2 linked regions of the Homo sapiens genome follow. Changing the gene in region 1 together with any one later gene gives a genetic interaction. Each region holds a gene or a part of one and is shown in the gene's direction. Other genes may lie near its edges. The genes, in order: RNF4 and TBP.

What was found.
Region 2: of RNF4 (region 1) and TBP, changing one enhances a phenotype caused by changing the other (phenotypic enhancement), as found in Homo sapiens cells (one study listed by BioGRID).

What each region holds. Positions count from the first base shown.
Region 1 is NC_000004.12:2,472,036-2,475,853, forward strand, and holds part of RNF4 (E3 ubiquitin-protein ligase RNF4), read left to right. Parts: intron 1-3,818. UniProt on the Homo sapiens protein: E3 ubiquitin-protein ligase which binds polysumoylated chains covalently attached to proteins and mediates 'Lys-6'-, 'Lys-11'-, 'Lys-48'- and 'Lys-63'-linked polyubiquitination of those substrates and their subsequent targeting to the proteasome for degradation.
Region 2 is NC_000006.12:170,557,369-170,561,186, forward strand, and holds part of TBP (TATA-box-binding protein), read left to right. Parts: intron 1-3,818. UniProt on the Homo sapiens protein: The TFIID basal transcription factor complex plays a major role in the initiation of RNA polymerase II (Pol II)-dependent transcription.

The sequences.
Region 1 (3,818 bases):
AAAAAATACTATCTAGGACTTTCATAGCTAGAGAAAGGTCAATGCCTGGCTTCAAAGGACAGTCTGATTCTCTTGTTAGGGGCTAGTGTGGCCAGTGACTTAAGTTGTAACTAGTGCTCATTTACCATTCTGAAAATCCTAGGGCCCTTAAGAAGTATGCAAAAATCTACTGTGTGCTGATCATTGAAACAGGAAAGCCTGTATAGTAGCATATCTGTTTACAGTATGTTTTACTGAATATTTTAAGCCCACTATTGAGATCTACAGCTCAGAAAAAAAGATTTCTTTCAAAATATTACTGCTCATTGAGAATGTGCTTAGTCACCAAAGAGGTCTCATGGAGATGAGTAAGATTAATGTTAACATCTGTTCTGCAGCCCATGGATCAAGGAGTAATTTCAACTCTCAAATCTTACTTAAGAAATGCATCTTGAGGCTGAGCACAGTGGCTCATGCCTGTACTCGCAGCACTTCGGGAGGCCAAAGCTGGTGGATCGCTTGAGCTCAGGAGTTAGAGACCAGCCGGGGCAGCATAGTGAGACCACCCCCTCCACTGCCAGTCTCTTAAAAAAAAAAAAAAAAAAGGGCGGCAGGGGGAAAGAAAGAAATGCATTTTGTAAGGCTACAGCTACATAGATTGTGATTCTTCTGATGGGTATCAACAATGTAAATTAAAAACCTCCTGAAAGGATATACTATTCTAGATACCATTAAGAATATTTGTCTCCAGGCACGGTGGCTCACCCGTGTAATCCCAGCACTTTGGGAGGCGAAGTGGGCGGATCACAAGGTCAGGAGATCGAGACCATCCTGGCTAACATGGTGAAACCCCATCTCTACTAAAAATACAAAAAATTAGCCGGTCTTGGCAGCGGGCACCTGTAGTCCCAGCTACTCGGGAGGCTGAGGCAGGAGAATGGTGTGAACCCGGGAAGAGGAGCTTGCAGTGAGCCAAGATAGCACCACTGCACTCCAGCCTGGGCAACAGAGCGAGACTCCATCTCAAAAAAGAAAAAAAAAAAGAATATTTGTGATTCATGGGAGGAGGTCAAAATATCAACATCAGCAGTTCACGGTGGCTCACGCCTGTAATCCCAGCACTTTGGGAGGCTGGGGCAGGCAGATCACCTGAGGTCAGGAGTTTGAGACCAGCCTGCCCAACATGGTGAAACCCCGTCTCTACCAACAAAATACAAAAATTAGCCAGGCATGGTGGCACGCTCCTGTAGTCCCAGCTACTTGAGGAGCTGAGGTAGGTTAATCGCTTGGGCCCAGGAGGTGGAGGCTGCAGTGAGCCGAGATTGTGCCTCTGCACTACAGCCTGGGCAACAGTGAGATTCCGTCTTAAAAAAAAAAATCAATTAACACAACAAGAACTTGGAAAAAGTTGATTCTGACCCTCATGGGTGACTTTGAGGGGTTCTAGACTTCAATGGAAAAAGTAACTGTAGATGTGGTGGAAATAGCAAGAGAACTAGAATTAGAAGTAGAGCCTGGCCGGGCCTGGTGGCTCACGCCTGTAATCTCAGCACTTTGGGAGGCCTAGGCGGGTGGATTACGAGGTCAGGAGTTCACAACCAGCCTGGCCAGATGGTGAAACCCCGTCTCTACTAAAAATACAAAAAATTAGCAGGGCGTGGTGGCGCACGCCTGTAATCCTAGCTACTCTGGAAGCTGAGGCAGAGAATTGCTTAAACCTGGAGGGGCAGAGGTTGTGGTGAGCCGAGATCACACTACTGCACTCCAGCCTGGGCGACAGAGCGAGACTCTGTCTAGAAAAAAAAAAGTAGAGCCTGAAGGCTGGGCCTGATGGATCACCTGAGGTCAGGAGTTGGAGACCAGCCTGGCCAACATGATAAAACCTTGTCTCTACTAAAAATACAAAAATTAGCTGAGCGTGGTAGTGGGATTGTTACTGCATAGTAATCCCGGCCACTCCAGAGGCTGAGGCAGGAGAATTGCTTGAACCCAGGAAGCAGAGGTTGCAGTGAGCCAAGATCGGGCCACTGCACTCAAGCGTGGACAATAGAGTGAGACTTTGTCTCAAAAAAATAAAAGGGCCAGGCAAGGTGGCTCACACCTGTAATCCCAGCACTTTGGGAGGCCAAGGCAGGCGGATCACGAGGTCAGGAGATTGAAACCATCCTGGCTAACACGGTGAAACACCGTCTCTACTAAAAACACACAAAAAAATTAGCCAGGTGTGGTGGCACGCACCTGTAATCGCAGCTACTCAGGAGGCTGAGGCAGGAGAATCGCTTGAACCCAGGAGGCAGAGGTTGCAGCGAGCCGAAATCACGCCATTGCACTCCATCCAGCCTGGTTGACAGAACGAGACTCTGTCTCAAAAAAAAAAAAAAAAAAAGTAGAACCTGAAGATGTGACTGAATTGCTGCAATTTTTAAATAAAACTTGAACACATGGAGAGTTGCTTCCTGTGGACAGGCAAAGAAAGTGGTTTCTTGAGGTGGAATTTACTGCTGAAGGTGCAGTGAACATTGTTGAGATTATAACAAAGGATTTAGAATATTTTATAAACTTAGTTAATAAAACAGTGGCAGGGTTTGAAAGGATTGACTCCAATTTTGAAAGAAGTTCCACTGTGGGTAAAATGCTGTCACACAGCATTGCACGCTACAGAGAAATCTTTCATGAAAGGAAGAGACAACTGATGCAGCAAACTTCATTTTAAGAAATTGTCACAGTTGGCCCAGTGCGGTGGCTCACGCCTGTAATCCCAGCACTTTAGGAGGCCGAGGCAGGCGGATCACCTCAGGTTGGGACTTCCAGACCAGCCTGGCCAACATGGAGAAACCCCGTCTCGACTAAAAATACAAAAAAATTAGCTGGGCGTGGTGGGGCATGCCTGTAATCCCAGCTACTCGGGAAGCTGAGACAGGAGAATTGCTTGAACCAGGGAGGCAGAGGTTGCGGTGAGCCAAGATTGCGCCGTTGTACTCCAGCCTGGGCAACAAGAGTGAAACTCCATCTCAAAAAAAGAAAAAGAAAAACTGTCACAGCTGCCCCAACCTTCATTAGCCACTGCCCTGATCCATGAGCAGCCATCATCAGGGCAAGACCCTTCACCAGCAAAAATATTACAACTTTGTGAAGACTCAAATGATCATTAGCATTTTTTATTTATTTTTTAAGAGAATATCTCCCTGTTGCCCCAGTTGGAGTGCATTGGTGCGATCGTAACTCACTGCAGCTTCCAACTTCTGGGTTCAAGAGATCCTCTCACCTCAGCCTCCCAAGTAGCTGGGGCTACAGGCGCACGCCACCGCACCTGGCTTTTTGTTTGTTTGTTTGTTTGTTTTTGAGATGTAGTCTCACTCTGCCGCCCAGGCTGGTGTGCAGTGGCGCGATCTCGGCTCATTGCAAGCTCCGCCTCCCAGGTTCACGCCATTCTCCTGCCTCAGCCTCCCGGGTAGCTGGGACTACAGGCACGTGCCACCATGCCCAGCTAATTTTTTGTATTTTTAGTAGAGATAGGGTTTCACCGTGTTTGCCAGGATGGTCTCGATCTCCTGACCTCAAGATCCACCCGCCTCAGCCTCCCAAAGTGCTGGGATTACAGGCGTGAGCCACCTCGCCTGGCCCACACCTGGCTAATTTTTAACAAAGTTTTGTAGACTGGGTCTTGCCCTTTTGTCCAGGCTGGTCTCAGACTCCAGACTCATGATTTAATATCTATGGTTGAGTGATTCCCTACTTCTTACTCTCTTACAGAACCACTCTATAAGATAGTTGTTGTAGTTAGCCCCATTTTACTCTTCCTGAGGCACTGGGAGATCAGGGTCACTTGCCCAAGGTCA
Region 2 (3,818 bases), on another chromosome or scaffold:
CCCTCACCAAATTATTTTCTAGTTTTATTTTTCCCCTTTTACATTTCAAGCTCTCAACCACCCATCTACTTTAAAAATTTTTCAGCCTGGGTGCAGTGGCTCACGCCTGTAATCCCAGCACTTTGGGAGGCCAAGGTGGGCGGATCACCTGAGGTCAGGAGTTCGAGACCAGCCTGGCCAACGTGGTGAAACCTCATCTCTACAAAATATACAAAAATTAGCCAGGTGTTGTGGCGGGTGCCTGTAATCCCAGCTACTCGGGAGGCTGAGGCAAGGAGAATTGCTTGAACCCGGGAGGTGGAGGTTGCAGTGAGCAGAGGTCGTGCCACTGCACTCCAGCCTGGGAGACAGAGCGAGACTCTGTCTCAAAAAAAAAAAAAAAAAAAAAAAAATCAATAACTTTTGTTGAAATATACATACAAAAAAACTCATTTTAAGTGTCTGTTTTGATAATTATATATAATGTATAAATTACAGAACATTTCAGTTACCTTAAAAAGTCCCTTCTTCCCCTTTATAGTCACTCTGCTGGCCCCAGGTAACTACTGCATCTGCTTTTCAATGCTGAAGATTAGTTTTGTCTATTCTAGAATTTCATATAGATGGAATCAGAGTGTATGCTTTTTTGTGTATGTCTGACTTCTTAGCCCAGTGTACTGTTTGTATATCAGTAGTTAATCCATTGTATAGCTAAGTATCACTCCATTGTTTGGATGTTCCACAGTTCATCCATTCTCCAGTTGCTCACATTTGGGGTCTTTCCAGTTTGGAGCTATTGCGAATAAAAGCACTGTAAACATTTGTGTAGACTTTGAATGCACTGTTTTTACTTCTCATGGGTAAATACTTAGGAGTAGGATTGCTAGGTCCTATATTGGTATATGTATAACTTTATAAGAAACTGCCAAACTGTTTTTTGAAGTGGCTGTATTGTTTTGCAGCATAAGAGATTTAAGTTGCTCCACATCCTCACCAACACTTTCTGCTGTCAGTCTTTTTACTTTCACTCTAGTGATTGCTTAGTAGTATCTTATTGTGGTTTTGATTTTTATTTGCCTGATTACTAATGTTTCTGAGCACCTTGGCAAGTGCTTGTCAGCCACTCATACACAGGCCCACCTCACTTTACTGCACTTCACTTTACTGCATGTTTGACAAATTGAAGGTTGTGGTAAACCTGTACCCAGCAAGTCTGTTGGCATTATTTTTCCAAAAGTGTGTACTCACTTCATGTCTTGGGGTTAGATTTTGGTAATTTTTGCAGGATTTCAAACTTTTTCATTATTATCCGTTATTGTTATCAAACTTTTTTTTTTCTTTTTTTTTGTATTTTTTTTTTAATTTTTTTTTTCAGTCACTCTGTTGCCCAGGCTGGAGTGCAGTGGTGCAGTCTTGGCTCACTGCAAACTCCATCTCCCGTGTTCAAGCGATTCTCCTGCCTCAGCCTCCCAAGTAGCTGGGATTACAGGCATGCGCCACCACACCCAGCTAAATTTTGTATTTTTAGTGGAGACGGAGTTTCACCATGCTGGTGTCAAACTACTGGCTGCAAGTGATCCATCCGCCTTGGCCTCCCAAAGTGTTGGGATTACAGGCATGAGCCACTGTGCCTAGTCAAACCTTTTCATTATTATCTGTTATTGTGATCAGTGATCTTTGATGTTACTATTGTAATTATTATTGAATGCCATAAACTGCACCTGTATAATACAGGAACTTAATTGATAAATGTCTGCAGCGTGACCAACCATTCCCCCATCTCTCTCCCTCTGCTTGGTCTTCCCTATTCCTTGAGACACAACAATATGGAAATTAGGCTAATTAATAACCTTACAGTGACTTTTAATTAAGTGTTCAGATGAAGGGAAGAGCTGCACATCTCTCATTTGAAACCAAAAGCTATAAATGATTATACTTAGTGAAGAAGGCATGTTGAAAGCTGAGACAGGCTAAAAGCTAGGCCTCTTGCACCAAATAGTTAGCCAAGTTGTGAATGCAAGGGAAAAGTTCTTAAAGGAAATTAGAAGTGCTACTCCAGTAAACCCACAAGTGATAAGAAAGCAAAACAGCCTTATTGCTTATATGGAGAAAGTTTGAATGGTCTGGATAGAAGATCATACCACCCACACATCCCCTTAAGCCAAAGTGTAATACAGAGCAAGGCCTTAACTCTCTTCAATTCTGTAAAGGCTGAGAGCGGAGAGGAAGCTGTAGAAGAAAGTTTTGAAACTAGCAGAGGTTTATTCAGAGCTTTAAGGAGAGAGGCCTTCTCCACAACATAAAAATGCAACATGAAGCAGCAAGTTATCTGGAAGATCTAGCTGAGATAATTGATGAAGGTGACTATACTAAATAATAGATTTTTAATGTAGATGAAACAGCCTTCTACTGGAAGAAGATGCTATCTAGGACTTTTATAGCTAGAGAGGAGAAATCAGTGCCTAGCCTCAAAGCTTCAGAGGACTGGCTGACTAGTTAGGGGCTAATAGAGCTGGTGAGTTTAAATTGAAGCCAATGCTCATGTTCTGCTCTAAAACCATAGAGCCTTAAGAATTACGCTAAATCTACTCTGCCTGTCCTCAGTAAACAGAACAACAAAACCTGATGAGAGCACGTCTGTTTACAGCATGATTTACTGGATATTTTAAGCTCTTTGAGATCTGCTCAGAAAAAAAGTTTAATTTCAAAATATTACTCACTGACAGTGTAACTAGTTGTCCACAAGCTCTGATGGAGAAGAACAAGGAGATTAATATTGTTTTCATGCCTGCTTAAATAATATATCCATTCTTCAGCCCATGGATCAAGGAGTAATTTCAACTTTCAATTCTTACTATTTAAGAAATACAGCAGGGCATGGTGGCTCATGCTTGTAATCTCAGTACTTTGGGAGGCCAAGGTGGAAGGATCACTCAAAGCTAGGAGCTCAAGACCAACCTGGGTAACAAAACAAGTCCCTGTTGCTACAAAAAAAAATTTTTTTTTAATTAGCTGGTCATGGTGGCATGTGCCTGTAGTCCCAGCTACTTGGGAGGCTGAGGCGGGAGGGTCACTTGAGTCCAGAAGTTAAAGGCTACAATGGAGACCCTGTCTCAAAGAAAGGAAGCAGGGAGGGACATATGCTGTAGCTGCCATAGATAGTGATTCCTCTGATGAATCTGGGCAAAGTGAATTGAAAACCTTCTGAAAAAGATTCACCATTCTAGATGCCATTAAGAATGTTCATGATTCATGGGAGGAGGGTGAAATATCAACATGAATAAGAGTTTGGAAGAGGTTGATTCCAACCCTCGTGGATGACTTTGAGAGGTTCTAGACTTCAGTGCTGGAAGTTACTGCAGGTGTAGTGGAAATAGCAAGTGAACTAGAATTAGAAGTGAACCTGAAGATGTGACTGAATTGCTGCAATTTTTTGATAAAACCTGAACAGATGAGGAGTTGCTTCTTGTGAGTAAGCAAAGAAAGTGGTTTCTTGAGATAGAATTGACTCCTGGTGAAGAACTGATGACTTTAGAATATTACATAAACTTAGTTGATAAAGCAGCAGCAGGGTTTGAGAGGATTGACTCCAATTTTGAAATAAGTTCTAGTGTGGGTAAAATGCTGTCAAATAGTATCATATGCTACAGAGACATCTTCAGTGAAAGGAAGAGTCAGTCAGTGTGGCAAACTTCGTCAGTCTTATTTTAAGAAATTGCCACAGCTACCACCCTGATCAGTCAGCAGCCATCAACATCGAGGCAAGATCCTCTGTCAGCAAAAAGATTATGATTTGCTGCAGGCTCACATGATTGTTAGCATTTTTAGCAATAAAGCAT